Regions from separate parts of the Homo sapiens genome. Here all the other regions are linked to region 1. Evidence: fine-mapped expression QTL. A gene starts in region 1. Each other region holds a variant in brackets. All regions are shown on one strand. Distances are from middle to middle. Region 1 holds the start of CTSW (cathepsin W). Region 2 overlaps PACS1 (phosphofurin acidic cluster sorting protein 1). Region 3 overlaps PACS1 (phosphofurin acidic cluster sorting protein 1). Region 4 holds the start of RAB1B (RAB1B, member RAS oncogene family).

Region 1 (8,102 bases):
TCTCCTGTATGCCCCTTCCCCATCAGCTCCCCCATCTCACCTGAAGGGGCTTCATGTTGATGGTCACGGTGATGGGGCCATAAGTGGCCAGGTACTGCGCAATTCCTGGGGACAGGAACATCATCAGACCCTTGGCATGTGGGTGTGTGGGTCTCTCGCTCCTTCGCTCCCCCCACCCCCTCTTGTCTTCTAGCCCAGTAGCCCAGCGTGTCTGCCTCTGCCCCGGTGTCTGTCCCTGCCATCCGCCCGTGTCCCTGCCCTGCCCGCACTGTGCTCGTTGTTCTGCAGCATGATGAAGTCCTGGATCCAGGCCACCTTCTGGTACTTCTTGGGGTGGCACCTGTGGGCTCTGACTTTGCCCTGGAACGGGTAGTCCTTTTCACTGGCCAGGCCGCCTGCAGATAAGCAAGACAAGGGAGGAGGTTCCGCTCCTGCCCACCCTGTCCCCCTGCAGATGTCCAGAGTGGCGGGGCAGTGCACTCACTGTTGTTGAGGACAGTTATGAACGCGTCCCAGACGAAGCCACCGTGGCAGCCATCCCCACAGCGGCCACAGTCCAGCAGTTCTGGTGCAAGAAGGGACAGTGTGGGTGACCAGGCCCCTAGGCCTCCCTCCCCTGTCACACGCGCACCCTCTCCCAACCCTACCCTGCACGGAGACATCCACAAAATCCCAGAAACTGATGCGCCACAGGGTCTCTATGTTGCCTGCCGCTGCCATGGCCCAGCAGCAGTTGCAGTTTTTCTGGAGGGCGAGAGGGTGGGGCGGGGCTAGGTGTTCGGGCCGTGCCCCTCTCCCTCCCACCACTTAGCTGAATTAGAGCCAGCTGGGTAGCGGCAGATACCTGGTCCTTGATGGGTGAGATGGCGCTGGCCACCTTCCGCCAGTCACAGCTGAAAGGTACTGACTCCTCTGGCTCTTCAGACCTTATTTCTCTGCCCATGCTGGGGACCCCTCCAGCTGCCCTCCGATAGCCATAGAGCTGGCCAAACTCCTCCTCTGGGGAACAGACAGGGCCACTGAGGTCTCCATTTTGACCCCTTCTCCCTGTTCTGCCTCTCCCACTCCAGCTGTTGGTCCCATAATTCCCTGAGGGGCAAAAAGGCAAGGATAGGCCGGGCGTGGTGGCTCACACCTATAATCCCAGCACTTTGGGAGGCCAAGGTGGGTGGATCACTTGAGGTCAGGAGTCCGAGACCCCATCTCCACAAAAAGTAGAAAAATTAGCTGGGCGTGGTTGTGCGGGCTTGTAGCCCCAGCTACTTAGAAGGCTGAGGGGTCGGGGGAATTGCTTGAGTCTAGGAGGTGGAGGCTGAGTGAGCTGTGATTGCACTATTGTACTGCAGCCTGGACAACAGAGCAAGACCCTGTCTCAAAAAGGCAAGGGTGCCAAGCCTAGAGAGGCTGGGCTCCCTGCTGGGTGCTTCCCTGCAGCTGCTGCGCTGGCCCCTAGGCTGGATTAGGACACAGGACTGCAGAGATTCTGCCCCTGCACTGGGTGATTTGATACCAGCACCCAAGCCCCTGGTCCTCAGGGAAATGAATTTCCTTCCCTGGGAAGTAAAAATTGAAGGTCCGCTGGGTCCAGCTGCCAGTGTCCCTGGGGAGATCGCTTCCCAACCACCACCTACGAGCCAGAAGGGTTAATGGTACCTGTGAGGTCACTGAATGGAGTCACCCCAAACTCAGCTGTGCCCAAGTCCTCCTCCTGCAGCCTCTGAGCCTGGGCCAGGTTGTGGGCAAAGATGTCCAGGCGGTGAGCATGCTCTGGACCAAAAGGGAGTTGTCCTAGGCTGACTCCCAAGCCCTTAGGGGCAGGAAGTAGCCGCTGGCTGGGCACCCTTCCACCCACACCCACCCAGTTGAGCACTGGCTCCTTTCCTGTAGCCCCCACAAGGCCCCACTGCAGATACCCAGGCCCAGGAAGTGGTTACCCAGCCCACCGAGGGTTGGGTTTTCCCCAGAGGCAGCCAGAGGACCATCTCTGGCCACCCTAGGTGGGAAGCCAGGCAAGGGGTCCGGTGGTGGTGACTCAAGGATGTGTGGCTGGAGACCAGCTTCCTGCCAGGCCACGTCCTTTACACCTCTGACCACAGGAGGAGAGCTGGAACATGGCAGGGAGAGGAGATGACAAGGCACAGGCAGTCTGGGCTAAAAGGCACACACAGATCAGCCCCCTAGAGAGATCAGCACAGCGAGAGGGCAGGGGCAGGGGTTAGATCATGGGCTAGAGAAGAAGTCCCCAATGTGGGGACAAAATGGGTGTCCTTGGGTGTTTGCTGAATGAGCAAATGACTAGGTGGTGGCCCCCTGTCCACTGCCTAGAATCGCAGGGAAGTGGCTGTGGAGCCAGGGGATCACGTAGGACTAGGGCAGGACCCCACCTCCTGCCACTGCCCTCCAGATCCATAGCAAAGAATGATCCTGGACCCACTCATGCCTTCGGGAAACCAGGGAACACACCCCCAGCCCTGGCCTGTCCTGCTGAGTGGCCTTGGCCATGCCTGTTCCCCACCCTGAGCTTCGATTTCTTCATCTATTACAAAGCGGGATGGCTGGGCTCCGTGGCTTACACCTGTAATCCCAGCCCTTTGGGAGGCCGAGGCAGGCGGATCACCTGATGTCAGGAGTTCAAGACCAGCCTGGCCAACATGGTCAAACCCCATCTCTACTAAAAATGTAAAGGTTAGCCAAGTGTGGTGGCGCATGCCTGTAATCCCAGCTACTCAGAGGCTGAAGCAGGAGAATCGCTTGAACCCGGGAGGTGGAGGTTGCAGTGAGCCAAGATGACACCATTGCACTCCAGCCTGGTCAACAAGAGTGAAACTCCGTCTCAAAAAAAAAAAAAGTGGGGGCTTGGACTGGAGATGTATGTGCCCTGTGATACCTTCTGGGCTCAGGTAACTCCGGTTGAACTGGATCTGGAACAACTTGAAGGCCTCTTTCAGCTCTAGCGGCTGGGGACCTAGGTCCTGGCAAGGAACCAAGGGTGGAGAGGGGCAGTGGGCAGAGGAATCATTGCTGGGGCCCCACCTTAGTTCCCAGCCGTGCAAGGACTGGGCTAGGGGTCAGCCAGTTAGCCTTTTCTGTCTTCCCATGTGCCCTTGGGCACGTCAGCCCCCTCTCCAGCCTCAGCAACTCCCTCTGAAAAATGAGAATGACAGGCCAGCTGTTTCTGAAGGGGTGACCCCAGGCGTGGGACTGGCATAGGTAAGGGTTTGGGAGCACTTACCTGGGCCCTAAGGGGGCCTCTGATGCCTTGGGCTAGGCCTGCCACCAACAGGGCCAGGAGGCAGGAGGGGTGGGCAGTCAGTGCCATGCCGGTGCAGTCTGGAGTGGCATGGAGGCAGGAAGCCGCGCAGATCGAGGAGGACGGTGTGAGGGTGGGGCTGGAGAAACCACGAAGGGGAAGACAGGCTTGGTGGGTGGAGGGTGGACCCCTAGAACCCACAAGTTGCTCAGGCCTTCAGGCTTTCAGTCCCTGCCTGTCTGCTCCCCATCCCACCCCTTTTTCTTTCTTTCTTTCTTTCTTTTTTTTTTCCACCCAGGTTGGAGTGCAGTGGCATGATCTCGGCTCACTGCAACCTCCACCTCCCGGGTTCAAGCAATTCTCCTGCCTCAGCCTCCCGACTAGCTGGGACTACAGGCATGCACCACCATGCCCAGCGAATTTTTTGTATTTTCAGTAGAGACAGCATTTCACCATGTTGGTCAGGCTGGTCTCCAACTCCTGACCTCAGGTGATCCACCTGCCTCAGCCTCCCAAAGTGCTGGGATAACAGGCATGAGCCACTGCGCCCAGCCAAGGGAACCACTCTTGCTCATCCTATGAAGCTCAGTCAGCTCAATGGCCGCCTCTTTCAAGAAGCCTTCCCTGCTTCCCCAACCTCTGGTAGAAGCTTTGCAGCCCCTTCAGCCCAGCTGCACCTGTGCCCATTGGGCATCTGCCTCCAACCACACCAGAAGTGTTCAGTTCGCTTGTGTCCTCGGTGTCCTCGGTTCCCAGGATAGGGCTAGGCATGAGTCAGGCTCGCTAGGTGTTTGTTGACTGAACAATTGATCATCATGAGTTTTAAACAGGAAAGCAGGCCGGGCATAATGGCTCATGCCTGTAATCTCATCACTTTGGGAGGCCAAGGTAGGAGAATCATTTGAGCTCAGGAGTTGGAGACAAACTTGGACAACTGAGCAAGGCTTCATCTCTACTTAAAAAAAAAAAAGTTAGCCAAGCATGGTGGTGCTCTCCTGTAGTCCCAGCTACTGGGGAGGCTGAGGCCAGTGGGATTGCTTGAGCCTGGAAGATTAAGGCTGCAGTGAGCTATGATCATGCCTCTGCACTCCAGCGTGGGTCCAAGATCCTGTGTCAAAAAAACAAAACCAGGCCAGGCACGGTGGCTCACGCTTGTAATCCCAGCACTTTGGGAGGCCGAGGCGGGTGGATCACCTGAGGTCAGGAGTTGGAGACCAGCCTGGCCAACATGGTGAAACCCTGTCTCTACTAAAAATACAAAAAAGCAGCTGGGCATGGTGGCGGGCGCCTATAATCCCAGTTACTCGGGAGGCTGAGGCACAAGAATCACTTGAACCTGAGAGGTGGAGGTTGCAGTGAGCCGAGATCGCACCATTACACTCCAGCCTGGGCAACAAAAGTGAAACTCCATCTCAAAAAACAAAACAAAACAGGAAAGCGCAGAGTCAGAGTCCGGGAGCAGCAACTGCAGCCAGTGCCTCCCGTTCCTCATCCCTCCCACGGTCTAGGGATGAGGATGAGGGGGCTGAAGAGCCAGAAGGATAACAGGGTGAGCATCACAGACGGAGGGAGGCCAAAGCCTGACTTGTGAGGTCAAGGGCTGGGCAGCAGCATTAACACCCGTTACTGCTGCCTTTGTTCTAAGTGGGTCCTTGGGCTGGGGACCTCCCCTATAGGAGTTCAGGCTGAGAACTGGTGACCAAGACCAGAGAAGGGTGTGAAGAGCTGGCTTTCTAGGGTTCCATGGGGTGGGAGACAGGACAGCTATAATCCTGGGATTTATTCACTTACATGCTCACTACTGCGTTTCTTTTTTTTGTTTGTTTTTTTGAGACGGAGTCTCGCTCTGTCGCCCAGGCTGGAGTGCAGTGGTGCGATCTCGGCTCACTGGAACCTCCACCTCCTGGGTTCACGCCATTCTCCTGCCTCGGCCTCCCGAGTAGCTGGGACTACAGGCACCCGCCACCACGCCCGGCTAATTTTTTGTATTTTTTAGTAGAGACAGGGTTTCACCATGTTAGCCAGGATGGTCTTGATCTCTTGACCTCGTGATCCGCTCGCCTCGGCCTCCCAAAGTGCTGGGATTACAGGCGTGAGCCACCACGCCCGGCCTACCATGTTTCTTTATTAGGATTCCTCCCAGAGTCGTGAGGCCACACTTTGTCACCCTGCCCAGAGAGTAAACCAAGGGGCTTCTCTATCTGAAAAGCATGCTGCTGCCTTTATTGAAATGCAGTGGACAGACCATCCCCAGAGTGGTGCCTGGCCCTGTGGTTCTAGAGCCCAGTTATGGGCCCCAGCCAGTCTTGTCCTGTGTGTGACTGATAGTTAAGGCTCCATGTCAGCCCTCAGAGGTGGAGGTCCCAGTGTGGGCCTCTTGTGATGGTAGGGGATGTGGGAGGCCACGGGGAAAAGGAACTGGAGGTGTGGGGCCCAGTGGCCTTCCCTTTGATCCTCTCCTCCCTTCCCTTGAACTAGAGCTCCTGAGGCCAGGAGGTTTGGGTCTGTTTTTGGTCAGTGCTGTGTCCCTGGCTAGCACCACAGCATCTGCTTCACAGTGGCCACTCAGTAAACATTGTTTGTTTTGTTTTGCTTTGTTTTTTTGAGACAGAGTCTCACTCTGTCGCCCAGCCTGGAGTGCAGTGTCACGATCTCGGCTCACCGCAACCTCTGCCTCCCGGGTTCCAGCAATTCTCCTGCCTCAGCCTCCCAAGTAACTAGGGCTACAGGTGTGCACCACCATGCTGGGGTAATCTTTTTGTATTTTTAGTAGAGACAGGGTTTCACCATGTTGGTCAGGCTGGTCTCAAACTCCTGACCTCAAGCAATCCACCTGCCTTGGCCTCCCAAAGTGCTGGGATTACAGGCGTGAGCCACTGCACCCGGCCGAGAAAACATTTGTTGAGTGAATCAATGAACTTCCTCCACCCACTCACTCATTTGTTCATTCAACTGCCTACTCTGCAGATCCCAGCTGGTACCCAGTAAGGGCTGGGCCATGGGCACAGGGGCCTCACTGCCTGAGAGGAGCTCCCTGCTTGGTAGGAGGGAGACACTGATCCAGTGGTGTCTGGGACCTTGAAAGGGACCCAGTGCAGAGCAGGCGAAGGCAGGGAAAGTCACTGGGGGTGCAGAGGACGAGGGAGGCATTCTGAGGAGGCAACTCCAAGTGGAAGGCTCACTCGGGCTGGATAGTGCAAAGATGGAGGTTCAGGTCTAGGTTGTGCACCAGCTGTGCACTAAGTCATCCCCCCTGGGCCTCATGTCTTCATCTCTAATTGGCAATGACAATTCTCAGGCTGAGGCTTGAGTGGAAGATACTTAGTGGAGCACCCACCACTGTGGCTGGCACAGAGTGGGTGTTTGCAGGGCGGGTCCTTAATGCTCTAATATGGGGCAAGGAGCCCAGCGAGTCTTGAAGTCCGTGGGACATGAGTGCAAGTCCCATCCTTCACCTGGGACAAGTCTCTCAGCCTCCCTATCTGTGAAATGGGGTGATAGCAGCACCCCTTTCCTGCCTTTTTTTATATTTCCTTTTTTTGAGACAGAGTCTTGCTCTGTTGCCCAGGCTGGAGTGCAGTGGCACGATCTTGGCTTACTGCAAACTCCACCTCTCCGGTTCAAGTGATTCTCCTGCCTCAGCCTCCTGAGTAGCTGGGACTACAGGCGTTCGCCCCCATAGCCCGCTAATTTTTGTGTTTTTAGTAGAGATGGGGTTTTGTCATGTTGGCCAAGTTGGTCTGGAATTCCTGACCTTAGGTGATCCACCCACCTTGGCCTCCTAAAGTGCTGGGATTACGGGCGTGAGCCACCGTGCCTGGCCTATTGTGGTATTATTACATACTATAAAACTCACATTTTTTTTTTTGAGACAGAGTCTCACTTTGTCGTCCAGGCTGGAGTGCAGTGGCGCGATCTCGGCTCACTGCAAGCTCCACCTCCCAGGTTCACGCCGTTCTCCAGCCTCAGCCTCCCGATTAGCTGGGACTACAGGCGCCTGCCACCACGCCAGGCTAATTTGTTTAGTAGAGATGGGGTTTCACTGTCTTAGCCAGGATGGTCTTGATCTCCTAACCTCATGATCCACCCGCCTCGGCCTCCCAAAGAAAATTCACTTTTTTGAAGTGTACAATTCAGTGGGTTTTTGTATGTTTGCATAGTTGTGTGACCATCACTACTATCTAGTGTTAGAATATTTTCATTATCCCAAAGAAAACCCAGACCCCATTAGCAGACACTCCCCATTCCCCACCTTCCTCTGGCAACCATTAATCTACTTTCTGTTTTTCTGGGTTTGCCTATTCTGGTTATTTCATATAAATGGAATACGTGGGCCAGGCACGGTGGCTCACGCCTGTAATCCAAGCACTTTGGGAGGCCAGGGTGGGTGGATCACCTGAGGTCGGGAGTTCGAGACCAGCCTGACCAATATGGTGAAACCCCATCTCGGCTAAAAATACAAAATTAGCCAGGTGTGGTGGCAGGCACCTGTAATCCCAGCCATTCCGGAGCCTGAGGTAGGAGAATTGCTTGAACCCAGGAGGCAGAGATTGTGGTGAGCTGAGATCATGCCATTGCACTCCAGCCTGGGCAACAAGAGCGAAACTCCATCTAAAAAAAATAAAAAATAAATGGAATATGTGGCTTTTTGTGTCTGGCTTCTTTCACTTCACATAGTAGTTTCAAGAATTCACCTATATTGGCCGGGCGCGGTGGCTCACGCCTGTAATCCCAGCACTTTGGGAGGCCAAGGTAGGCGGATCACAAGGTCAGGAGATTGAGACCATCCTGGCTAACACGGTGAAACCCCATCTCTACTAAAAATACAAAAAATTAGCCGGGCCTGGTGGCG
Region 2 (8,102 bases), 220 kb before region 1:
TCCATCTCAAAAAACAAAAACAGATATAGGCCAGGCATGGTGGCTCATGCCTATAATCCCAGCATTTTGGGAGGCCAAGGTGGGTAGACCACTTGAGCTCAGGAGTTCAAGACCAGCCTGAATAACATGGCAAAATCCCAACTCTACAAAAAATACAAAAATTAGCTGGGTATGGTGGCACATGTCTGTGGTCCCAGCTACTCGGGAGGCTGAGGTGGGAGGATGACTTGAGCCCAGGAGGCGGAGGTTGCAGTGAGCTGATATCGAGCGACTGTACTCCAGCCTAGGAGACAGAGCCAGACCCTGCCCTCAAAACCCCCCCAAAAAAGAAAATGATATAGAAAGTGATAGGCTGGGCACGGTGGCTTATGCCTGTACTCCCAGCACTTTGGGAGGCCGAGGAGGGTGGATCACGAGGTCAGGAGATTGAGAACATCCTGGCTAACACAGTGAAACCCCATCTCTACTAAAAATACAAAAAAATTAGCCGAGTGTGGTGGTGGGCGCCTGTAGTCCCAGCTACTCGGGAGGCTGAGGCAGGAGAATGGAGTGAACCTGGGAGGCGGAGCTTGTAGTGACCAGAGATTGTGCCAATGCACTGCAGCCTGGGCGACAGAGCGACACTCTGTCTCAAAAATAAATAAATAAATAAATCAATAACTATTAGCCCGGTGTGGTGTCATGCACCTGTAGTACCAGCTACTTTGGAGGCTGAGGCAGGAGAACTGCTTGAGCCCTGGAGGCGGAGGTTGCAGTGAGCTGAGATTGTGCCACTGCATTCCAGCTTGGGCTACAGAGTGAGACTCCATTGAAAAGGGAAGGGAAAAGGGAAAAAAGAAAAGGAAAAGAAAAGAAAAACAATGGCATTACAGTAAGAAAAACAGAGATACCTGGAAGACACCAACATGAGCAGGTGATGAGGGCCAACAACAGCAGTAACAGGGCTGGTTAACAGAATGTGCCCCTTGATGTGATGTGCTGAGACTATTACAGCATCATTTTTGTGATACTTTTGCCAAGAAATCATGACCTGAATTTGGTCATAAGGAAATACTATAAGATCCGCCTTGCCAATCACCCTACAGGATATCTAACGGTTGTGGACAAGAACAACCGGGATGACAAAGGATGATCCCAGACTGGAGGGTGTGAAGAGACGCTGACAGCTAGGTGCAATGCACACTCCTCCCTGGGATTCTGGGACAAAACAGAAATGAGATATAGTTGGGGCAGCAAACTGTGAATGGGGTCAATAGATTGGACAATAGGGTTTTATCACTGCAAATTGTCTGACTTAAAGGAGTATGTAGTGGTTATTTGGGAGTGCCCTTAACTGGCGGAAAATAAACACTGAAATATTTAAGGGTGCTAGGATAGCATGTGCATAACATGGTCTCAAATGACCCAGAAAAAACTGATTTAGAGAGAGAAATAGTACAATAGAGTAAATGCAGTAAAACGTGAACAGTTTGGAAATCTGCATGAGGTGAGAGGAATGTGCAAGTTCCTCCCCATCACAGACTAGAAGAAAACTCTATCAGATACACACACAAACATACAACACACATTCATGCAGAGACACACACACACACATCTGATAAAGAACTTAACCCGTCATATATAAAGAACTTCTACAAATAAATTATAAAAAGACAAACATATTGATTATTCTTACTCTTATTATTTTTATTATTTTTGAGACGGAATCTCACTCTGTAGCCCAAGCTGGAGTGTGGTGGCATGATCTGGGCTCACTGAAACTTCCATCTCCCGAGCTCAAGTGATTCTTGCGCCTCAGCCTCCTGAGTAGCTGGGACTACAGGCGCCCACCACCATGCCCAGCTAATTTTTTGTATCTTAGTAGAGACGAGGTTTCACCATGTTGCCAGGGTGGTCTCAAACTCCTGAGCTCAGGCGATCCACCCACCTTGGCCCCCAAAGTGCCGGGATTACAGGTGTAAACCACCATGCCCAACCTACCTATTTTTAAAATAAGAAAAAGACTTGAACAGATACTTCGCAAAAGAAGGTATCCAAATGTCCAATTAGCAGGTATTCAATGTCATTAGGGAAATGCAAATTAAAGCCTCAGAGTTTCCATTTCATGCCCACTAACATGGCTAAAATCTAAAAGACAGGCACTAAATGTCGGTGGAGATACAGGGCAACAGGAACTATATTGCTCGTATTAGTTATCCACTGTAGCATAATAATACTAGCAAAGCTTAGCAGCAGCTTAAACTAATGCATGTTTATTATCTCACAGATTCTATAGGTCAAAAGCCCAGGCACAGTTTAGCTGGGTCCTCTATAAGGTGCCACCAAGGTACTGGCTGAGACTATGGTCTCATCTGAGAACTGAGTGGGATAGGATCTGTTTCCAAACACACATGGTTGTTGGCAACACTCAATTCCTTGTGGGCTGCTGGACTGAGGGCCACAGTCTCTTGCTGGCTGTGGGTTTGAAGCTGCCCTGAGCTCCCTGCCACAGGGCCGTCTCCATAGGCAGCTCACAACACAGCACCAAAGCCAGCAAGGGAGAGAGTCTCCTCACAAGATGAGCATTACGATCTGACTGGGAATAATCAGGTATGCATGACCATACACATCCTGTCACCTCTGCCATATTCTATCAGTGAGGAGTCAATCACAGGTCCCACCTGCACCCAAGGGCACAGGACTACTAGGCCATAAATACCAGGGGGTATTTATCATGGGGGCCACTTCAGAATCTGTCTGCCTCAGTTAGTGGGAATGCAAACTGATACAATCACTTTGAAAAAATTGGCAGTTTCTTACAAAGTTTAAACATACACCTACTCTAAGACACACCATTCCACTCCAACATATGTACCCCCAAAGAAATGAAAATGGGGCTGGGCGTGGTGGCTCATGCCTGTAATCCCAGCACTTTGGGAGTGTGAGGCAATAGGATTCCACAAAGCCAGGAGTTCAAAACTGGCATGGGCAACAAAGCGAGACTGTCTCTACATTAAAAAAAAAAAAAAGAGAGAGAGAGGGAGAAATGAAAATGTATGTCTGTAAAAACACCTGTGTAAGAATGTTCACAGCGGCTGGGCGCGGTGCTCAGGCCTGTAATCCCAGCACTTTGGGAGGCCGAGGTGGGCAGATCATCTGAGGTCAGGAGTTTGAGACCAGCCTGACCAACATGGAGAAACCCCGTCTCCACAAAATAAAAAAAATTAGCCAGGCATGGTGGCGCATGCCTGTAATCCCAGCTACAAGGGAGGTTGAGGCAGGAGAATCGCTTGAACCCGGGAGGCAGAGGTTGCAGTGAGCCAAGATCAC[G/A]CCATTGCACTCCAGCCTGGGCAACAAGAGTGAAACTCCCGTCTCAAAAAAAAAAAAAAAAATTCATAGCAACTTTATTCATAAAAGCTAAAAGCTGTAAAGAACCTATATGTCCATCAACAGGAGAATGGATATGCAAATTATATCATGTTTCAATGAAATACTTGGAAATAAAAAAGAATGAACTACTAGCTGGGCGCAGTGGCTCACACCTCTAATTCCAGCACTTCGGGAGGCTGAGGCAGGTGGATCACTTGAGCTTGGGAAGTTAAGGCTGCAGTGAGCCATCACTGTACTCCAGCCTTGGTGACACAGCGAAACACCCTACATCAAAAAAAAAAAAAAAAAAAAAAAAGAAAGAAAAAGATAAAAAGAAAACCAGGCATGGTGGCTCACTTGAGGGCAGGAGTTCAAGACCAGCCTGGGCAATTGGCAAAACCCCGTCTCTACTAAAATAAAAAAATTAGCTGAGCATGGTAGTGCATGCCTGTAATCCCAGTTGCTTAGAAGGCTGAGGCAGAAGAATTCCTTCAACCTGGGAGGTGGAGGTTGCAGTGAACTCAGATCACGCCATTGCATTTCAGCCTGGGCAACAGAGTGAGACTCTATCTCAAAAATTTAAAAAAAAAAAAGAAGAAATTACAAACTTATTGGGAAAATGTGGGTGCTGATGAAAAAGCCAAACAGTTTTCGACAGCTGGAATTCACCAGATAATACCTAAAGATTGTTTTCTAAATAAGTCTGTAAAACTACGTGACTCTCTAAAATATATGTATAACTTTGATTAAAAATAAAAGCAATAATGAGGCCGGGCGTGGTGGCTCACGCCTGTAATCCCAGCACTTTGGGAGGCCAAGGCGGGTGGATCACTTGAGGTCAGGAGTTCGAGACCATCCTGGCCAACATGGTGAAACTCCGTCTCTACTAAAAATACAAAAATTAGCCAGGCATGGTAGCATGTGCCTGTAACCCCTGCTGTTCAGGAGGCTGAGGCAGGAGAATCACTTGAATCCAGGAGATTGAGTTCGTAGTGAGTGGAGATCACATCACTGCACTCCAGACTGGGCAACAGAGTAAGTCTCCGTCTCAAAACAACAACAATTCTCTTTGAAGCAATTGTGAATGGGAGTTCACTCATGATTTGGCTCTCTGTTTGTCTGTTATTGGTGTGTAAGAATGCTTGTGATTTTTGTACATTGATTTTGTATCCTGAGACTTTGCTGAAGTTGCTTATCAGCTTAAGGAGATTTTGGGCTGAGACAATGGGGTTTTCTAGATATACAATCATGTCATCTGCAAACAGGGACAATTTGACTTCCTCTTTTCCTAACTGAATACCCTTTATTTCCTTCTCCTGCCTAATTGCCCTGGCCAGAACTTCCAACACTATGTTGAATAGGAGTGGTGAGAGAGGGCATCCCTGTCTTATGCCAGTTTTCAAAGGGAATGCTTCCAGTTTTTGCCCATTCAGTATGATATTGGCTGTGGGTTTGTCATAGATAGCTCTTATTATTTTGAGATACGTCCCATCAATACCTAATTTATTGAGAGTTTTTAGCATGAAGGGTTGTTGAATTTTGTCAAAGGCCTTTTCTGCATCTATTGAGATAATCATGTGGTTTTTGTCTTTGGTTCTGTTTATATGCTGGATTACATTTATTGATTTGTGTATATTGAACCAGCCTTGCATCCCAGGGATGAAGCCCACTTGATCATGGTGGATAAGCTTTTGGATGTGCTGCTGGATTCGGTTTGCCAGTATTTTATTGAGGATTTTTGCATCGATGTTCATCAAGGATATTGGTCTAAAATTCTCTTTTTTGGTTGTGTCTCTGCCCGGCTTTGGTATCAGGATGATGCTGGCCTCATAAAATGAGTTAGGGAGGATTCCCTCCTTTTCTGTTGATTGGAATAGTTTCAGAAGGAATGGTACCAGTTCCTCCTTGTACCTCTGGTAGAATTCAGCTGTGAATCCATCTGGTACTGGACTCTTTTTGGTTGGTAAGCTATTGATTATTGCCACAATTTCAGAGCCTGTTATTGGTCTATTCAGAGATTCAACTTCTTCCTGGTTTAGTCTTGGGAGGGTGTATGTGTCGAGGAATTTATCCATTTCTTCTAGATTTTCTAGTTTATTTGCGTAGAGGTGTTTGTAGTATTCTCTGATGGTAGTTTGTATTTCTGTGGGATCGGTGGTGATATCCCCTTTATCATTTTTTATTGCGTCTATTTGATTCTTCTCTCTTTTTTTCTTTATTAGTCTTGCTAGCGGTCTATCAATTTTGTTGATCCTTTCAAAAAACCAGCTCCTGGATTCATTAATTTTTGAAGGGTTTTTTGTGTCTCTATTTCCTTCAGTTCTGCTCTGATTTTAGTTATTTCTTGCCTTCTGCTAGCTTTTGAATGTGTTTGCTCTTGCTTTTCTAGTTCTTTTAATTGTGATGTTAGGGTGTCAATTTTGGATCTTCCCTGCTTTCTCTTGTGGGCATTTAGTGCTATAAATTTCCCTCTACACACTGCTTTGAATGCGTCCCAGAGATTCTGGTATGTTGTGTCTTTGTTCTCGTTGGTTTCAAAGAACATCTTTATTTCTGCCTTCATTTTGTTATGTACCCAGTAGTCATTCAGGAGCAGGTTGTTCAGTTTCCATGTAGTTGAGTGGTTTTGAGTGAGATTCTTAATCCTGAGTTCTAGTTTGATTGCAATGTGGTCTGAGAGACAGTTTGTTATAATGTCTGATCTTTTACATTTGCTGAGGAGAGCTTTACTTCCAACTATGTGGTCAATTTTGGAATAGGTGTGGTGTGGTGCTGAAAAAAATGTATATTCTGTTGATTTGGGGTGGAGAGTTCTGTAGATGTCTATTAGGTCCGCTTGGTGCAGAGGTGAGTTCAATTCCTGGGTATCCTTGTTAACTTTCTATCTTGTTGATCTGTCTAATGTTGACAGTGGGGTGTTAAAGTCTCCCATTATTATTGTGTGGGAGTCTAAGTCTCTTTGTAGGTCACTCAGGACTTGCTTTATGAATCTGGGTGCTCCTGTATTGGGTGCATATATATTTAGGATAGTTAGCTCTTCTTGTTGAATTGATCCCTTTACCATTATGTAATGGCCTTCTTTGTCTCTTTTGATCTTTGTTGGTTTAAAGTCTGTTTTATCAGAGACTAGGATTGCAACCCCTGCCTTTTTTTGTTTTCCATTTGCTTGGTAGATCTTCCTCCATCCTTTTATTTTGAGCCTATGTGTGTCTCTGCACGTGAGATGGGTTTCCTGAATACAGCACACTGATGGGTCTTGACTCTTTATACCTAGGAATCCAACTTACACGGGACGTGAAGGACCTCTTCAAGGAGAACTACAAACCACTGCTCAATGAAATAAAAGAGGATACAAACAAATAGAAGAACATTCCATGCTCATGGGTAGGAAGAATCAATATCGTGAAAATGGCCATACTGCCCAAGGTAATTTATAGATTCAATGCCATCCCCATCAAGCTACCAATGACTTTCTTCACAGAATTGGAAAAAACTACTTTAAAGTTCATATGGAACCAAAAAAGGGCCCGCATCACCAAGTCAATCCTAAGCCAAAAGAACAAAGCTGGAGGCATCACGCTACCTGACTTCAAACTATACTATAAGGCTACAGTAACCGAAACAGCATGGTACCAAACAGAGATATAGATCAATGGAACAGAACAGAGCCCTCAGAAATAACGCCGCATATCTACAACTATCTGATCTTTGACAAACCTGAGAAAAACAAGCAATGGGGAAAGGATTCTCTATTTAATAAATGGTGCTGGGAAAACTGGCTAGCCATATGTAGAAAGCTGAAACTGGATCCCTTCCTTACACCTTATACAAAAATTAATTCAAGATGGATTAAAGACTTAAACGTTAGACCTAAAACCATAAAAACCTTAGAAGAAAACCTAGGCATTACCATTCAGGACATAGGCATGGGCAAGGACTTCATGTCTAAAACACCAAAAGCAATGGCAACAAAAGCCAAAATTGACAAATGGGATCTAATTAAACTCAAGAGCTTCTGCACAGCAAAAGAAACTACCATCAGAGTGAACAGGCAACCTACAAAATGGGAGAGAATTTTCGCAACCTACTCATCTGACAAAGGGCTAATATCCAGAATCTACAGTGAACTCAAACAAATTTACAAGAAAAAAACCAACAACCCCATCAAAAAGTGGGCGAAGGACATGAACAGACACTTCTCAAAAGAAGACATTTATGCAGCCAAAAAAGACATGAAAAAATGCTCACCATCACTGGCCATCAGAGAAATGCAAATCAAAACCACAATGAGATACCATCTCACACCAGTTAGAATGGCAATCATTAAAAAGTCAAGAAACAACAGGTGCTGGAGAGGATGTGGAGAAATAGGAACACTTTTACACTGTTGGTGGGACTGTAAACTAGTTCAACCACTGTGGAAGTCAATGTGGCGATTCCTCAGGGATCTAGAACTAGAAATACCATTTGACCCAGCCATCCCATTACTGGGTATACACCCAAAGGACTATAAATCATGCTGCTATAACAACATATGCACACGTATGTTTATTGCAGCACTATTCACAATAGCAAAGAGTTGGAACCAACCCAAATGTCCAACAATGATAGACTGGATTAAGAAAATGTGGCACATATACACCATGGAATACTATGCAGCCATAAAAAATGATGAGTTCATGTCCTTTGTAGGGACATGGATGAAATTGGAAATCATCATTCTCAGTAAACTATCGCAACAACAAAAAACCAAA
Region 3 (8,102 bases), 250 kb before region 1:
AGGCTGGGTGTAGTGGCTCACGCCTGTAATCCCAGCACTTTGGGAGGCCAAGTGGGGTGGATCACTTGAGGTCAGGAGTTCGAGACCAGCCTGGCCAACATGGTGAAACCCCGTCTCTACTAAAAATACAAAAATTAGCCAGGCATGGTGGTAGGCACCTGTAATCCCAGCTACTCGGGAGGCTGAGACAGAAGAATTGCTTGAACCCAGGAGGTGGAGGTTGCACTGAGTTGAGATTGCACCACTGCACTCTAGCCTGGGTGACAGAGCAAGGCTCTGTCTCAAAAAAAAAAAAAAAGCGCAGGAGAGGAGGCCAGCAGGGATGAGGGCAGGCCTCAGGCAGCCATGGTACATGCTGAACCTGTGCACAGTGTGTCTGGGTGACAGTGCTGGCATGTTTTCCACACAGAAAATCGCTCTGTAATACTAGTAATTTATCAACTAAAGTTAAAATGAAGAACTTTCATTTATCTTGAGTTCTAAAGCTTAAGCCAAAGCAATTTTAGTTGGAGAAAGCTGAGGAGCTAACAAAAACCCATAAAGATTCTGAAGGGCGTGCCTTACCTATCTCAGAGCTCGTGAAGATGGCAACCATGAGTCCTTAGCGTGGCTTCTAATTTCTCTTCAAAATCAAGGGCTTCCTTTCTTTTTGATATGGACACACCACTAAGTACTCTTTAGCCATTACCAGGACAAGCTTTTAGTTCAAAATATAATGAAAAGAATGAGTGGTGAGAAGAAATAAGATTTTTTTTTTTGAGATGGAGTCTATCTCTATTGCCCAGGCTGGAGTGCAGCGATGTGACCTCAGCTCACTGCAACCTCCACATCCCGGGTTCAAGCCATCCTCCTGCCTCAGACTCCCAAGTAGCTGGAGTAGCACCACACCTGGCTAATTTTTGTATTTTTAGTAGAGACAGGGTTTCACCATGATGGCCAGGCTGGTCTCGAACTCCTGACCTCAGGTGATCCACCTACCTCAGCCTCCCAAAATGCTGGGATTACAGGCGTGAGCCACTGCACTTGGCTGAAATAAGATATTTTTGAGGTAAGAGAGCAATAAATAAGGAAGAAACAAGAAACCCAAAGAGGAGATAAGAAGGATTATCTCCGGCATAATTATCTAAGATTCAAGACAGAATAAAAGTGAGTAATTGCTGGGGAGTGAAGGGAATCCCCAGTGATAGTGAGAAAAAGATGACACCGTGACCAAGTTTCTACACTGGCCATCAGGGGGCACCATCGGTCAGAACAACGCCCTGGCGCCAGGGTACAGGGAGCCCTACCCAACTGGACTTCCATATGTACAGGCTGCTCCCACTTTGGGAACACATACTAAACTATAAGCCATTGGAAATGCTTTTACAGCCAGATTAAGAGAGAAAAAAAAATACATCAAAAACAAACACAAACCCATCTGTCCCTATATTTGTACATCCAAATCAGAAATGGCAACGATACGTAGCGTGTCATTTGGATCCTAGAAGTAGGGAGGGCCAGAGAAAGCTGAAGAAATTTCATCACCTAGCCAGGTGTAGTGGCAGGCACCTGTAGGTCCCAGCTACTAGGGAGGCTGAGGCACAAGAATCACTTGAACCTGGGAGGCAGAGGTTGCAGTGAGCCGAGCGAGATTGCTCCACTGCACTCCAGCTTGGGGGACAGAGCGAGACTCCGTCTCAAAAAAAAAAAAAAAAAAAAAAAAAGAAAAAGAAAAAGAAAAAGAAATTTAATCACCGAGTCCCTGTTACTGAAACTCAGCCGGCCTCACAACAGTCGAGGGCAGCAGCACAGTGGGGCAGTGGACTCCGCACAAGGGGATGGTGGGGAATTACGCTAATGGGGATTTCAGGGAGCACAGAGAGGAACCTGGAACAATGACAATGTGATCAATGCCTCAGGAATAGGCATTTCATGCTTATGTTAGAGCTAGGTTCTCATATCTTTAAGAAATTAGAATAAACATGGGGTATATATCACAGGCATCTGAAGAAGGAAGTCAACAACTTGCCCAGTATCACACTTAGCCAGGACAAGTATCTGTCTGGCTTGCTAATCCAGTTTCTTTCCATTAGATATTTTTATAAATAATTAAATTTGTGATGGGAAAAAAAAGAAGAAAGCATTGCTTTAAGGTACATTTAACAAAAAAGTCTGGCTGGGCGCAGTGGCTCACACCTGTAATCCCAGCACTTTGGGGGGTTGAGATAGGAGGATCGCTTGAGGCCAGAAGTTTCAGACCAGTCTGACCGACAGATGTGGAACTCCATCTCTACAAAAAAATTGAAAAGTTAGCTGGGTGTAGTGGTGTGTGCCTATAGTTCCTGCTACCCTGGAGGACAGCTTGAACACAGGAATCGGAGGCTGCAGTGAGCTATGATAGCGCCACCCCAGCCTGGGCATGGTCTTCAGACTCAGACCTGCTGGCAGGCAAAAATCTTTCAATGACATCTCTGGATCTACATCAGGTTATAAACCACGGACATTATCAGCTGTTCCAGTGACCTGCATCGAGGTTGGCAAGATCCTTTGCCCCAAGCATCTGTGCACAGTGATGCCTCCAGCAGCCACTAGTGAAGCCAAGGAGCAGAACATAGGAAAAAAACTCAGCTCCTCCATCTGGCAGCATATGGCTAGCCAGACCTAGTGCTCTATCTTGCAAAACTAGCTATAAAGCTGAGGTGAGAGTCTTTAATGAATAAATGCAACAAATAAACTCTGCAAAGCAGAGTAATAATGGCTATACGAAGACAGGTGACACGGGTTAGAGTAGCAGCAGGAGGCCATAAAGTGCCCAGGACAGATTCCAGAAATTTTCTGGAGTCAGAATGTATAGAACTTGCTGATAGATTGCACACACAGAGCATGAAAAAGAAGCAAAGATGACTCCGGGGTTTTTGGCTTGAGCAACAGGGTGGAAGGCAGCACCATTTACAGTCGGCCCTCTGTACCCACAGGTTCCATATCCATGGATCAAAAATATTTAGGAAAAAAGCCAGGTGCCATGGCTCACTTCTGTAATCCCAGCACTTTGGGAGGCCAAGGCAGGGAGATCACTTGAGGTCACGAGTTCGAGACCAGCCTGGCCAACATGGTGAAACTCC[G/A]TCTCTACTAAAAATACAAAATTAGCTGGGCGTGGTGGCATGTGCCTGTAATCCCAGCTAATCAGCAGACTAAGGCATGAGAATTGCTTGAACCTGGGAGGCGGAGGTTGCAGTGAGCAGAGATCCCACCACTGCACTCTAGCCTGGGCAAGAGAGTAAAACTCCATCTCAAGAAGTATGTACCTATATGTATATTTAGGGGGAAAAAAAGGCTGGTTGCATCTATACTGAACATGTACAGACTTTTTTTTTCTTGTTTATTCCCTAAATAATACAGTATAACAACAATTTACATAGCATTTACATTGTATTAACTATTATAAGTATTCAAGAGATTAAAGTACGAGGGAGGATGTGTGTAGGTTATATGCAAATACAGTGTCACTATATAAGGAACTTAAGCATCTGTGGATTTTGGTATCTGTATTAATCCGTTTTCACACTGCTATAAAGATACTACATGAGACTGGGTAATTTATAAAGGAAAGGGTTTTAATTGACTCGCAGTTCCACAAGGTAGGGGAGGCCTCAGGAAACTCACAATCATCGTGAAGGGGAAGCAAGCATGGACTGTCTCACATGGTGGCAGGAGACAGAGGTGTGTGAGAGCGCAGGAAAAAAGCACCATTTATAAAACCATCAGATCTTGTGAGAATTCATTCACTGTCACAAGAACAGCATGGAAGAAACCGCCCCCATAATCCAGTCACTTGCCATCAGGTTCCTCCCTTAACACTCAGGGATTACAATTCAAGATGAGATTTGAGTGGGGACACACAGCTAACCTATATCAGTATCCATTGTGGAGGGCTGCTCGTGGAACCAATCCCCCAGAGATACCAAGGGACAAGTGTACTTAGATGAATAAAGATTGGGAGAGGAACAGATTTTTTTTTTTTAATGAGGAAGGGATAAAATAAGTTTTAGCAATGCTAAGTTTGAGATATCTGTTAGATATTTAGGTGGGGCTATCAGGTAGACAGTGAGTATACAAATTTAGAGATCAGAGAAAAAATCAAACTGGAGATGTAAATTTGAGACACATATAAACCTAATTAGAAGAAAATACAGGATAATGCCTTTTTTTTTTACATAGAGATGGAGTCTTGCTATGTTGCCCAGGCTGGTCTCGAACTCCTGGCTTCAAGCAATCCTTCCACCTTGGCCTCCCAAAGTGCTGGGATTACAGTCATGAGCCACCACGCCTGGCCCAGAAAAGATTTCTTAAGTAAGACATCAAAAAGCACAAATCTTTATAAATGGAAAAACCAAAGGAAATGTCTAAATTAAAACAAAAGATTTCTGCTGAATAAAGGACACCACAAACAAAGTTAGCAGGTAGATGAGGGACAGAAGAAGACATCTGAAACATTTATAACTGCCTTAGGATTAATAGCTACAATATATAAGAAACTCTACTGGAAAAATGGGAAAATGATATGACCAGGTCATTCATAAAAGGAAAATCCAAAGACTACCCAGTATATACAGAAATCTAGCCATGCTCATTAGTAATCAGAGAAATGTGAGTTTAAAAAGATATTAATAACATGTGAAACCTGCCAAACTCACAAAAGTTTTAAAGTCAAATACTAAGGACTGCACTTAGTAGTGGAAATACAAATTAAGCAATCATGCATTACTTAGTGAAATTAAATATGATTATACTCTGTGACCCAACAATGATACTTGTTGGTATTTAGCCAGAGAAACTCTTGTACAAGTTCGTAAGAAGACATATATGAGGATCTTCTTATTAATTTATTTAGTTTTATCTTTTTTTTTGAGACAGTCTCACTCTGTTGCCCAGGCTGGAGTGCAGTGGTGGCACAATCAAGGCTCACTGCAGCCTGAACGTCCTGGGCTCAAGCGATCCTCCCACCCCAGTCTCTCAAGTAGCTGGGACCACAGGCACATGCCACTGTGCTCAACTAAGTTTTTAATTTCTGGCAGAGATGAGGTTTTTGTCACATTGCCCGGGTTGGTCTCGAACTCCTGGGCTCAAGCGATCCTTCTGCCTCAGCCTCCCCAAAGTTCTGAGACTATAAGTGTGAGCCACTATACCCACAGAGCATTGTTTGTGGTACAGGGAGAACAAATAAGGTGTCTGTCACTTAGGGGAACAGGCAAATAAAACGCAGTAGACAGAGCAATAAAAATACAATGCAGTGGCTAAAAGCACCATATAAACACAACACCAACAGAACTGAAAAACATAGTTTTAAATGAAGAAAGGATCAGAATGAGAATTATCATGTAATACTATTTATATAAATTTACAGAAAACACCATGTAAGAATACATATATATCCAAGGATACATATTAAACACATCAGAGAAGATGCTAATGGGAGTGGGATGGGAATGGGAGAAGAGATACAAAGTGACAACAGAAAACAATAAAAACATCAGGGACCCTTGCAATGTCAATATAATGGTATTGTAAAAATAACACATTTTTAATTGGAAGAAAAAGTAACAAATTCAAAGGGGCAGAAGGAAGTTTCCTTCTGCTTCAACTCTCCTTTCCAAACTGTTTGACATTTGGTTCATTTGACTTACCAGGTAAGGAAGGGGGCTAGAGGGGAGGGAGGGAGGAGGCCAACATGTATAAATGCGGCCTACTATATTGCATCTTGCACCCACTTTGACCATGGCATTTGTCATGCTGCTGAAATTATACATATACACAGCTATCTTCTCACCCTGAAAGTTACATCCTTAAGGGCAGGACTGTATCATATTCATCCTCATGCACCCAAAACCCAACTCGGGGGATGGTGCAAAGAATACATTCAATAAATGCTGACTGGCTGACTGGTTGGTTGGTTGGTAGACTGGATGGAAAATAAATCAAAATTATAATCCAGCTGAATTGTTTTCAGCTCAGGTGTACCCTTAGTGCTTGACTATTATAATGTAGCCAATTGAATGTTTAAAGAATTATCATAAATGGGTAGATGTCCTCCTAACATCATTTATTCTAGCATAAAAATGCATGTCCTTTTGGATGGCAGACACATGGACAAACATCACAAAATTCAAGCTGACTCTACAGCTGCAAGGAGAAATTAGAGACACTACTGCAAAATCAGAAATATGAACGATAAAGTTAACTTGAGGTGAAGGGAAAAATAAAGATGCAGCACAAGCCAGGTAATCCCTGCTGCCTGGCAGTGCTGGGTGCCTCACACTTCTGACACTACTGATTCCACACTATGTGTATAATACACAAAAACCCTTCTTACTGGCCAAGCACAGTGGCTCACACCATTATCCCAACACTTTGGGAGGCTGAGGGTGGATCACTTGAGCCCAGGAGTTCGAGACCAGCCTGGGCAATATAGTTAGGCCCCGTCTCTATTTTAATAATAATAATAATAATAATAATAATAATAATATTTTTTAAACCCTTTTTTTTTTTTGATATGGAGTCTTGCTCTGTCACCCAGCCTGGAGTGCAGTGGTGCGATCTCAGCTCACTGCCACCTCCACCTTCCAGGTACAAGTGATTCTCCTGCCTCAACTTCCTAAGTAGCTGGGATTACAAGTGCGCGCCACCACACCTGGCTAATTGTTGTATTTTCAGTAGAGACAGGGTTTCACCATCTTGGTCAGGCTGGTTTTGAACTCCTGACTTCAGGTGATCTGTCCACCTCGGCCTCCCCAAGTGCTGGGATTACAGGCATGAGCCACCACACCTGGCCCCTTCTTACTAACTTTAATCAATTTTTAAATTGACATTACAGTATAATTTACATACAATAAAATACACACATTTAAATGAACAGTTTGATTAGTTTAAATGTACGTACCCATGAAATCACCATCATAGCCAAGACGCAGATCATTCCCATCACCCCAAAAGATCCCTTGTGCCCCTCTGCAGCCACGCCACCCCTTTACCCAGGCTCCAGGCAACCACTACTCCGTCTTTTGTCAAGATATCTCACTCACATTTTTTTTTTTTTTTGAGATGGAGTCCGGCTCTGTTGCCCAGGATGGAGTACAGTGGCACGATCTCGGCTCACTGCAACCTCCGCCTCACGGGTTCAAGTGATTCTCCTGCCTCAGCCTCTTAAGTAGCTGAGATTACAGGCGCATGTCACTACGCCTGGCTAATTTTTGTAATTTTAGTACAGACAGGGTTTCCCCATGTTGGCCAGGCTGGTCTCGAACTCCTAACCTCAGGTGATCCACCCTCCTCAGCCTCCCAAAGTGCTGGGATTACAGGCATGAGCCACTGTGCCCAGCCCTCACTCACTTGTTAAATTTTAAAATTTAATTCTAAAATTTTCAAACATATACACAGTAGAACAGTAGAATGAGCCTAGTTTGCCCAACACCCAGCTTCAACGATGTTTAATGCATAACCAGTCCTGTGTCAGTGATTCTCCCACCTACTCCCTTGCCTGGGCTATTCTGAAGCAAATCACAGACAGCATTTCTTTTCATATGTAAATATTTCAATATGTATGTCTCTTTAAAGGATATTCTTTTAAAATGTATCCACAATTTTCACACTTAACTAACAAATTTTTTAAATTTAATTATTTGTTGTCAATATTCAATATAAGATAAATTTCCTCTTGTCTTTTTTGGTTTGTTTTATAAAATAAACTTCTTAATACCATTAATACCATCAAATAATCAGTCAGTGTCCACATTTCCCAGATTGCCTCACATTTTCTTCATTTTGTCTGAATCAATCATATATGACTATTGGTTCATTCATCTCTTCAATCTCTTTTTATCTATAGAGGCTTTTTTCTCACCTTTTCCCCTTATGATTTATTTGTTGAAAAAACTGTTCTGTTTATCCTATAATGCAGTTTGGAATTTGCTGATTCTATCCCCAAAAAGCCATTTACAATGTTTCTCCATCCCTCGTATTTCCTATAAATACACAGTAAGATCTAGGCGTTTTATCAAACTCGGGGTCTACTTTAGCAGCAAGGCTGCTTCACAGGTGGTGGTGTGCACACATACCAGGACATACAT
Region 4 (8,102 bases), 390 kb before region 1:
GCCCCGGGTGCGAGGGCTCGGGGTTTTGAGCCGGGGTCCTGGGGCCCCTGGGGGGAGGGGCAGAACCCGGATGTGGGGGGGGGTCAGCGGAAGAGGGACCCGGATGTGGGGGCGCCGCACAGTCCTGACCCGGGCCAGACAACCCCGGTAAGCGTACAGCCCTGTATTCGGGATCGAGGCTGCGCTGGACGGCGCGGGCGGGGCTCACTCACTATTCGGGGTTCATGGCGGCGGCGGCGGCCCGCTCGGTCGCTCCCAGTCGACTCTGCTCCGCCTCCCGTTCCAAGATGGTGGCCGCTCCGCCCCAGAGGCCCCGCCCGCGACGCGCAGGCGCAAACGTCTTCTTCTCAGGCCTCGCCGCGCTGATTCCCGGAACTTGTAGTCTAAGACGTTCTCCAACTCAGCCCCGCTGCGCAGGCGTAGTCGGGGAGCCCGCGCCTCCGCGCCCACTCCCATCACTGCTGGCGCATTGCCTTCTGGGGCTTGTAGTTTGCACTCCGGACGCACTCAGGCTTGAGGACAGTGCTGGAAAGCCTGACCGCGACTCGGTGTTTAGAAAGCTCAATTTAGGGCTGGGCTTGGCACGTTTCACATCTGTCTGACGGAGGTAGTCATCCTTGCCCTCCCAATACCCACGTTGTGAACATTAAATGAGAATGTGGGTTCTAGTAAGACTAATAAAAGTACATTTGTCCAGGGTTCTTCGTGTACTGGGCAGTCCTAACTCGCAGCCGCGCGTCATCACCCGCATTTCATAGATGAAAAAACTGAGTCTCGGGAAACTCACTCAAGGTCAAAAACTTTGTGAGGAGCAGAGCTCATAAGAGCCCGCGGTCTCCAGAACCCCACAAGTGAGTGTTTTAGGGAAAGCCTGACTTGTGGGCCCCTCACGCAATTCCGGGGTGGGGCACAATATCTGGGCCCAGCTGCGCGGACAGCGGTTGAGCGAGACACACTGTCCCCCACTCACGCACGACCCTTCCCGGCTCCACCCCAGTCTAGAGACGCTGGGGGCCCCCGACCTCCGTCTCAAAACAAGCCCAGCTCAGATTTAAACCGTCTTTATTTCTACAGCAACATCTGAAAATATGAGAGCAGCCGCCTCACCCGCAACAGGGGGAGCCCCTCCTGCCACCAGGGGACCGTCGCCGCCCCTCGCGAGAAGCTGCAGGCGTGGGGGGAGGCGAGGCAGGATGGCTCGGTGGGCGGTGCCCGGGGCGGGGTCGGCCGTGCCTGGGCGGGGCCGGGTGGGAGGGGCAGTGCATAAGGCCGGGATGCGGGGCAGGGCCCGGCGGTGGGAGGACGGACTAAGGGGAGGTCCCCGTCCTGGGCCACGGGGCGATGGCGCGGGTAGGACGCATCCCTCAGAGGCCAGGAGGAGCGCGAGAAGGTCCCAGGACCCCCTTGGGAGGCGCCGCTCCCGAGAATGTAGAGCCTGGGAGATACCACCGCACGGAATGGGGGTGATTAAGGCCTGGGCGGTACCACTAGAAGAGGGACGAGGGGAGGCCCGGGTAGTACCGTGGACTGAAGGGAGGCGCGCGGCCAATAACTTATTTCTCTATATACAGAAGCAACGGCCGGGTTGAGTCGGGAGGGAGGGCGAGGGTGCCGAAGGGCCGGCGAGTGCTTAGTGTTCTTGGCTCTGGGGTCTGGGGAGGCCAGGCCACTGAGTCTATGGTGGAGACTCCAGCCGGCACCTCCTGCTGGCCCGAACCTAGGGAAGAGGGCCCTGCTGGAAGGAATAAATAAGGGATGGAGCTGGAGTGGGCAGGCCCAGCCTCCAGGGCTCAGGCTGAGATGACAAGGGAGAAGGTTACCCTGAGATTGAACAGAAAAGACAGGGGCTGTGGGAGAGACAGGCGGGACAAGCAGCAGGCCCATGCGCAGGGCTGGGGTGAGGGGGGTGTGCCAGGTGGGCGCTCTGGTGACTGGCTGCCCCTTCAGCATTAGCCCACCAGGGAGCTTCGTCGGGAGAGGTCCATGGAGCTGGAGCTGAGAGTGCGGCTGTCAGAGAGACCTGTGCCTCCAGGCTGTGGGCAGAGGGGGCAGGTGGCTCAGCCCTGTGCTGCTGCCAGTCTGTGCCTCCCTGGCCTGAAGGGGTCTGACCTGGCAGAGGCAGCCGGAATCCCTGAGCTGGGCAGAGGCAATGGCAGTTCTGACCCAAGGCCACACCCTGGTGCCCTGACACTCCCGTCCATCTCCACAGTGACGGTGTTAGCACTGGCCGTTTACACGTCCACCCCCAGGAGAGGCTGGGTTCCCCTCGTGTCTCCCCGTTGTCCAGCCCAAAGTAGGCCTGAGACAGAGCCAGGAACTGTTGCTGGATGAAGAGGCATGCTGGAGGGAAGCTTGGCAGCACGCATGCAGCCCCGGCCGCAGCTGCCCAGTGCCCAGACACCCGCCTGCCCCTACCTGGGTCGGCTCTTCCACGCTCTTGTTGAGGAAGTTGAGGGAACTGGCCCGCTTCATCCTGAGGGAAAAGGACAGCCTGGGATTTGCCCAAGGAGGAACTCACGGGAGATGGGGGCAGGGAGAAGGGTGGGGCTGGGGAGGGAACAGACTGGTGGGTGGTGGAGCCTGAGAGGGATGGGGAGGTTGCCTGGGGTCAGTGGGGCACACTCTGGGTCAGGAGCTCATCCGGGGTTGCTGGGTGGTTCTTGAGGCTCACCTTGGTGGGGGGCTCACCTGGGGTTAGGGGGCTCCTGGGGGGTGCCCCCCTGCAGCTTCTTTACCAGCATCTCACTGCTGCGCCTCAGGGCATCCCGGAGTTTCCCAAAGGAACCGCTGCGCCTCAAGGAGCCACTGCCATCCTGCAGGTGGACAGGCTTGCCTCTAGGCCCCGCTGGCCACCTAGGCTCCCAGCCCGACCCGGCCCAGGCCCCGGACTCACCCCATTCCACTCAGCTGTAGGTCCCACGTCCTCGAGGTCAGACTCAGACCGAGGCCCGGCACCCCCAGCCATGTCTCGGCTGCTGCGGCGGTCTCCCCGCCTGCCACTGCCATCTTTCAGCAGTTCTACCACCTTGGTCTGGCTTGCGGGGTCCAAACCCTGAGGGAGGGGCAGGGGCATCAGGCAGTGAATGGACCACACCCAGGGCCACACAGGTGTCTGCCCACCCCCTCCTGCATGGAGCCCCACCTGCTTGCGGTTACGGCTGGCACAGTCCTCTAGTGTGTGCGCGGCTTCCAGCTTGCCCTGGCGCCGGTATAGGGCCCCCAAGCTGCGCAGGGTGGTGTTGACTGTGGGGCTGTGGATGGGACAGTCTCAAACTCCATGTTCCCCCAGACCCAGGGCCCATCCTGGCACCCAGCCCACAGTGGGCCCTGAGGAAGCATGGACCTCCGGGGTAGCCAGAATCCATTCCTTCCCATGTCAAGCCCTGTGCTGGGCCCACCCAGCCTCTTCTGTCCTGGGGAAATCACCCCAGGGCTGGGGACCTGGCCCCAGGGCCCTCATGGGATGTTGTCACCAGGACCAAAAGCTGGGAGACCCAGAGCCAGAGAATTAGGCTGAGAATTGGGAGACAGAGCCTTCTTGGGACAGGTGACCTGTGAGTTGGGCCTTGCCAGATGAGCAGCAGAGGAGGGGTGTGTTGGGGGTGAGAGTATGGAATGTGGAGCCCGCCCTGCCGTGCCCTGCTCCCCAGCCCAGCCCCGCCCCACTCACCTGTCTACTTTACAGGCCTTGTACCAGCTGCCGTATTCCCCATAGGGGGCGCTGTCCCGGCGCTTATCCTGGAGGAAAGAATGGTCACAAGAAGTGAGAGCAGGCCCCCCTCTGCACATCCCAGCCTCCCCTGACAACCGCCCAGCCTGCCCCACAGAGCTACCTTGCTTTCCTCCCGCTCCTCTGCGTGCATCCAGATGGGCTTGTTGTCCCCTGGGGAGAGAAAGGGGACTGTCACCAGCCTACCATATAGGTCTCACCTGGTTGGGCTGGACACAGGACTGGGGTCAGGGGAGGGGAGACCACGGTTGGGCTTCGTTGAATGCATGAACAAGAGTAAGACCCAAAACACTGCTGACCCTCTTCTGGACAGAGATGAGCAGAACAGACCCTTGCACCTCAGGCCACAGCCCAAGACATGTGCTAGGCCTGAATGATGGGCCAGGCTCCGAGGGACTCAGGAGCAGATGACTGACCATCCGGGGCCAGAGGTGGTTTCCCAGAGTGGGAGACACTGGGGCAGGCCCTCAAGGTGAGCAAGAATCGCCAGTGGAGAAGGGGGATGCAAAGGCGTGTGAGGCCCTAGCAGGCCAAGGGGGCTGCGTGAGTTGGGTGTGTGCTCATGTGTGCAAACGTGAGCACAGGTGGCTGGGCACCATCTGAGGGTGAGGCTGGTGACCAGCCAGGCCAAAGCCTGAGGGCCTGCCCTGCTGAGGGATTTGTCCTGGGTGCTGATGGCAGAGTGGGCCTGGGATGGATGGGCTAGAGGCACCTGGTGACCACGCACTCACCATTGACAGAGCCAAACTCTTTCTCATGAGCGCGGGTGAGGATCTCCTTGTACAAGGTCTCCGCATCCTGGTACTTGCCCTGCTTCAGGTAGCAGGAAGCCTGGAAG[C/T]GGGAGACCCAGAGAGTGAGCGGGATGCATGCAGCCAAGCCTTTTTCTCTCCTTCTTCCCCAACCTCATCCCTGCCTCCCTCCTTCCCATCCTCCAGCTCCTCTCAGCCCCAAGGTACCAGGTTGTTCTTGGTCTTGGCCACATTGGGGTCATCGGGCCCGAGGCGTGTAGCATAGATCTCCAGTGCCCGCCGATAGTAATATTCCACCTCCTCAGCTTTGCCCTGGTTCTGGCACAGCAGGGCCAGGTTGCTGAGCTGCTTGGCCACATCTGGGTGAAACTTGCCCAGGACCTGGGATGGGAGAGGGAGCCAGGGGTTGGGCTCAGGGCTGCCCGGGCCCCTGCCTCCCAGACCCCCAGCCTGCCCAGCCCTGCCTGTTCCCACCTTCTCCCGGATCTCCAGTGCCCGCTTGCACAATGGCTCAGCCTCCTTGTACTTGCCCCTCTTGCCATACAGGACTGCCAGGTTGTTTAGTGTCGCAGCCACCTGGAGGTGGGAGAACGGAAGCTTCTTGACTCAGGCCCTGCAGGACTCTGGGACCTGCAGGGGATGGGGCACAGCCCCCACCTCCCACCCAACCCTCACTCACGGCTGGGTGGTCCTTGCCCAGTGTTTTCTCCCGGATGGCCAGAGCATCATTGAGCAGGTGGGCAGCCTCCTTGTACTTGTTCTGATCCCTGGGAGCAGGTAGGAGCATGGTCAGGGCTGTCCTCCAGCTCAAGGCCCTCCCCAATGGTCTGCAATCCCTGTGGTCACTCCTGTACTCACTGAGTGTGTATGACAGAGTGAGACCCAGAGTGTGGGGAGACCTGCTCAGCTCCTGCTCTCCAAGCTCCAAGGGCTGTAGGCAGTTTTCTCACAATTGGCTGGGGTGCGCAGTGCTGGGGTCCCACCGACTGCCTGGTGCCTAGCATTCCTGGGCGCCACATGGCTCTCCTGCTGCCCCTTTAGCGTGTCCTGCTCTCCAGGTCCCAGTGCCTTTGCTCATGCTGGCTTTTTGCCATGGGAACCTTTTCTAGCCCTCTTGTGTTTGGGCAAACTCACTTTCTGGCAAAGCCCCTCCTCCAGCCTTGGTGCCTGGAGAAGCTGTGTGGACTCCCCAGGACCCCTGGAGTCCTCATGTGCAGTCCCTCCCCAGTTCTGGCCAAGCCTCTCTCTTACACTAGACAGTTTTACTTGCATCTGTAGCCCAGCTCCACGCAGGTGGGCCACGAGTCCTGGCCCACAGCAGGCACCAAGGGTTAGTGATCCAGGGCTGGAGCCTTCCAGAAGAATTTGGGCACCCCCAGAGAGTCCTCACCGATAGACCAGTGCCAGGATGTTCAGCATGGTGGCAACGTCAGGGTGGTCGTGGCCTGACGTCTTCTCCAGGTCTTCGAGTGCCTGCTTGCAGAGTGGCACAGCTACCTCGTAGCGGCCCTGTGAGGCGTATTGGATCACCAGGTTGTGCAGGGTGCGGAGCCGGGCCGGGATCTCGTAGCCCCCATGCTGACCAGACACATCCCCTCCTCCTGGGCTAGGGGCTGCAGGGCCAAGGGCAGGAGGTCAGATGTACCATCTGCCCACTGGACTGGGATGGCACATGCCAGCTGTGCCTTTGAGCCACTTGACACATGGCCCTGGGCAAGTCACTAACCACTCTTTCTCAGTTTCCCCATTTATAGAATGGGTCTAGTTACCCCATAGAAAGAGGGGGTAGAGGCCCAGCTCCAGTACTTCAGGCTCTGTGTCCTGGGGCAAGCTGCCTAACCTCTGAGCCTGTGTCCCTGTGTACAGAGTGGAGGCCCCGATGCATAACCAGTACCATCAGCAAAGCAGGCACTGGCCCCATTGTGGCTGTCTGCATGTGCCTCCTTCAGAGGTGATTCGGAGAGGAAGAGAACTCTCCCAAGGGTCAGGGAAGCTAGTGGCAGAGCAGCACTGGAAGCCAGGCTGGTGACTCCACAGCTAATTGTGATGTCTGCTCACCACAGAGCTGGGGGGATGTGAGAAGCAGCAGCACGTACAACTGTTCTTGAAGCTCTAACACACTAGGATGTCATGATCAGAAGTGAGGCAGGAAGGAACATGGCAGCCACTCGGTCCCAAGGACCAAGAGTTCACACAACCTTTCCTTCCCCCACTCCAGAACTGCCCATCCGCACCTGGGCTCTGCTCATCCTCATTGGGGAACAGGTCATCCAGTGTGTCTTTGGGGACGTCCCCCTTCTCCTCCTGGGAAGGAAGACAGGATGAGCATCAGGGAAGGAGGCACAGGGCAGCCGGGGTGTCCATGGGCTGGGGTGGAGCCGAATCTGCTCCATGCTGCCCCTCCCTGCTCCCAGGCCTCCTTGCTGGGCAACAGTGACCATGGTAGGAGCTCACGTTAGGGGAGGCGTCTTCATCCAACTTGCGGATCTGGCTCATGAACAGCAAGTGCTGCTTCTCCTCCTCGAGCTGGGCCACGGCCTGCTCACTGCGCTGCAGCTTCTGCTGTGTCCCCGCCAGCTCCTCACGCAGCCACTGGTTCTCCTGCACCAGACGCCGCACCTGCGCCCGCAGCTTCTGCTTCTCTGATTCTACAGCCCCCAGGTGGCTCGACAATGCCAAGATCACCTGTGCAACCAGCCCAGGTAAGGGTCGGAGGCCTGTCGACCCCCTCGCCTATGACTGTAGCCTGGGCCTAGTTGGGCTCTGGCACCCAGTGAAGGGCCAGGCCTGGCCCTACAGTGAGGAGCTGCAGGTCTTTTCTCTGCTTGTCAAGGGAGAATCTCCTCAAGGCCCCCGACACACCATAATGCAAAGCCCAAACCCAGGAGGCTTGGGAGTCCCCAGTTCCTTCCTTCTAGGATCAGGAGAACCCCAAAAGGGCTAGTTGGGGTGCTGTGCTTTCCCTGAGCTACTAGCCCCTTCCTTCGTCTCTCCCTGGGTTGTACTCAAGCCTCTGCTGCCACAGCCAGTAGGTTACTGCTCCCTGCCTCAGGGCTAGCGCTTGCCCACAGAACTCTGCTAGATGGCTGAAGGACCACCCAAAGACTCCATCCCCACTTCTGCTGAGGGGCCACAGCATCCCCTGCCTTTCTGCAGCTCCCAGGTAGGGAAGGGGCATGTGTCCCAAATGCTCAGTTGGCATGAGGAGCCACAGGGGCAGGAAAAGTATCCAAAGGCCTTGGCCTCAACCCCCACCCCTCTCCCCAGCCTCTGCAACTCCTTTCCTTAGTTTCCAGTCTCTTCCTGCCTTCCTGCCTAGGGTCCAACCTCCCTTCTTGCTCTCTCTTTTTTTTTTTTTTTTTTAATTTAAGACAATGTCTCACTCTGTCACCTGGGCCGAAGGGCTATGGCACCGTCACAGCTCACTGCAGCCTCTACCTTCCAGGCTCAAGTGGTCCTTCCCCCTCAGCCTCCTGAGTAACTGGGACTACGGGTGCACACCACCACAGCTGGCTAATTTAAAAAATTTTTTGGCCAGGCACGGTGGCTCACGCCTGTAATCCTAGCACTTCAGGAGGCTGAGGCGGACAGATCACGAGGTCAGGATTTCAAGACCATCCTGG

The links. PIP is the estimated chance that this variant, and not a neighbour inherited with it, causes the effect.
Region 2: its variant is fine-mapped to the expression of CTSW in whole blood (INTERVAL, PIP above 0.99).
Region 3: its variant is fine-mapped to the expression of CTSW in whole blood (INTERVAL, PIP 0.99).
Region 4: its variant is fine-mapped to the expression of CTSW in whole blood (INTERVAL, PIP above 0.99).

The regions. Positions count from the first base shown.
Region 1 is chr11:65,875,072-65,883,173 of GRCh38, reverse strand. CTSW (cathepsin W) reads right to left here and starts at 3,337. Exons shown (of 10, transcript NM_001335.4): 1 at 3,233-3,337; 2 at 2,888-2,972; 3 at 1,654-1,767; 4 at 845-999; 5 at 648-744; 6 at 485-565; 7 at 270-395; 8 at 41-105. The coding sequence starts at 3,319.
Region 2 is chr11:66,091,772-66,099,873 of GRCh38, reverse strand. All of the region lies in intron 1 of PACS1 (phosphofurin acidic cluster sorting protein 1), which reads right to left. Among named protein-coding and RNA genes, the nearest start is that of PACS1, 26 kb to the right of the region's middle. RefSeq lists an enhancer at 1-360. The variant G/A (reference allele first, on the strand shown) is at 3,310.
Region 3 is chr11:66,127,856-66,135,957 of GRCh38, reverse strand. The region is part of intron 1 of PACS1 (phosphofurin acidic cluster sorting protein 1); the gene reads right to left. Among named protein-coding and RNA genes, the nearest start is that of PACS1, 62 kb to the right of the region's middle. RefSeq lists a silencer at 53-102 and an enhancer at 7,957-8,102. The variant G/A (reference allele first, on the strand shown) is at 3,102.
Region 4 is chr11:66,260,804-66,268,905 of GRCh38, reverse strand. KLC2 (kinesin light chain 2) reads right to left here. Exons shown (of 16, transcript NM_001318734.2): 3 at 6,934-7,164; 4 at 6,714-6,783; 5 at 5,870-6,092; 6 at 5,159-5,246; 7 at 4,954-5,055; 8 at 4,687-4,860; 9 at 4,462-4,561; 10 at 3,834-3,883; 11 at 3,671-3,738; 12 at 3,143-3,251; 13 at 2,894-3,052; 14 at 2,689-2,813; 15 at 2,416-2,473; 16 at 1,046-2,033. The coding sequence ends at 1,950. It overlaps RAB1B (RAB1B, member RAS oncogene family), which reads right to left and starts at 267. Exons shown (of 6, transcript NM_030981.3): 1 at 213-267. The coding sequence starts at 226. KLC2-AS1 (KLC2 antisense RNA 1) reads left to right here and starts at 3,220. Exons shown (of 6, transcript NR_186327.1): 1 at 3,220-3,554; 2 at 3,686-3,763; 3 at 4,044-4,202; 4 at 5,026-5,215; 5 at 6,894-7,181. It overlaps KLC2-AS2 (KLC2 antisense RNA 2), which reads left to right and starts at 495. Exons shown (of 3, transcript NR_186342.1): 1 at 495-607; 2 at 698-851; 3 at 1,075-1,357. RefSeq lists enhancers at 1-48, 209-538, 659-708, 1,009-1,058, 1,815-2,697 and silencers at 1,169-1,488, 1,509-1,558. The variant C/T (reference allele first, on the strand shown) is at 4,569.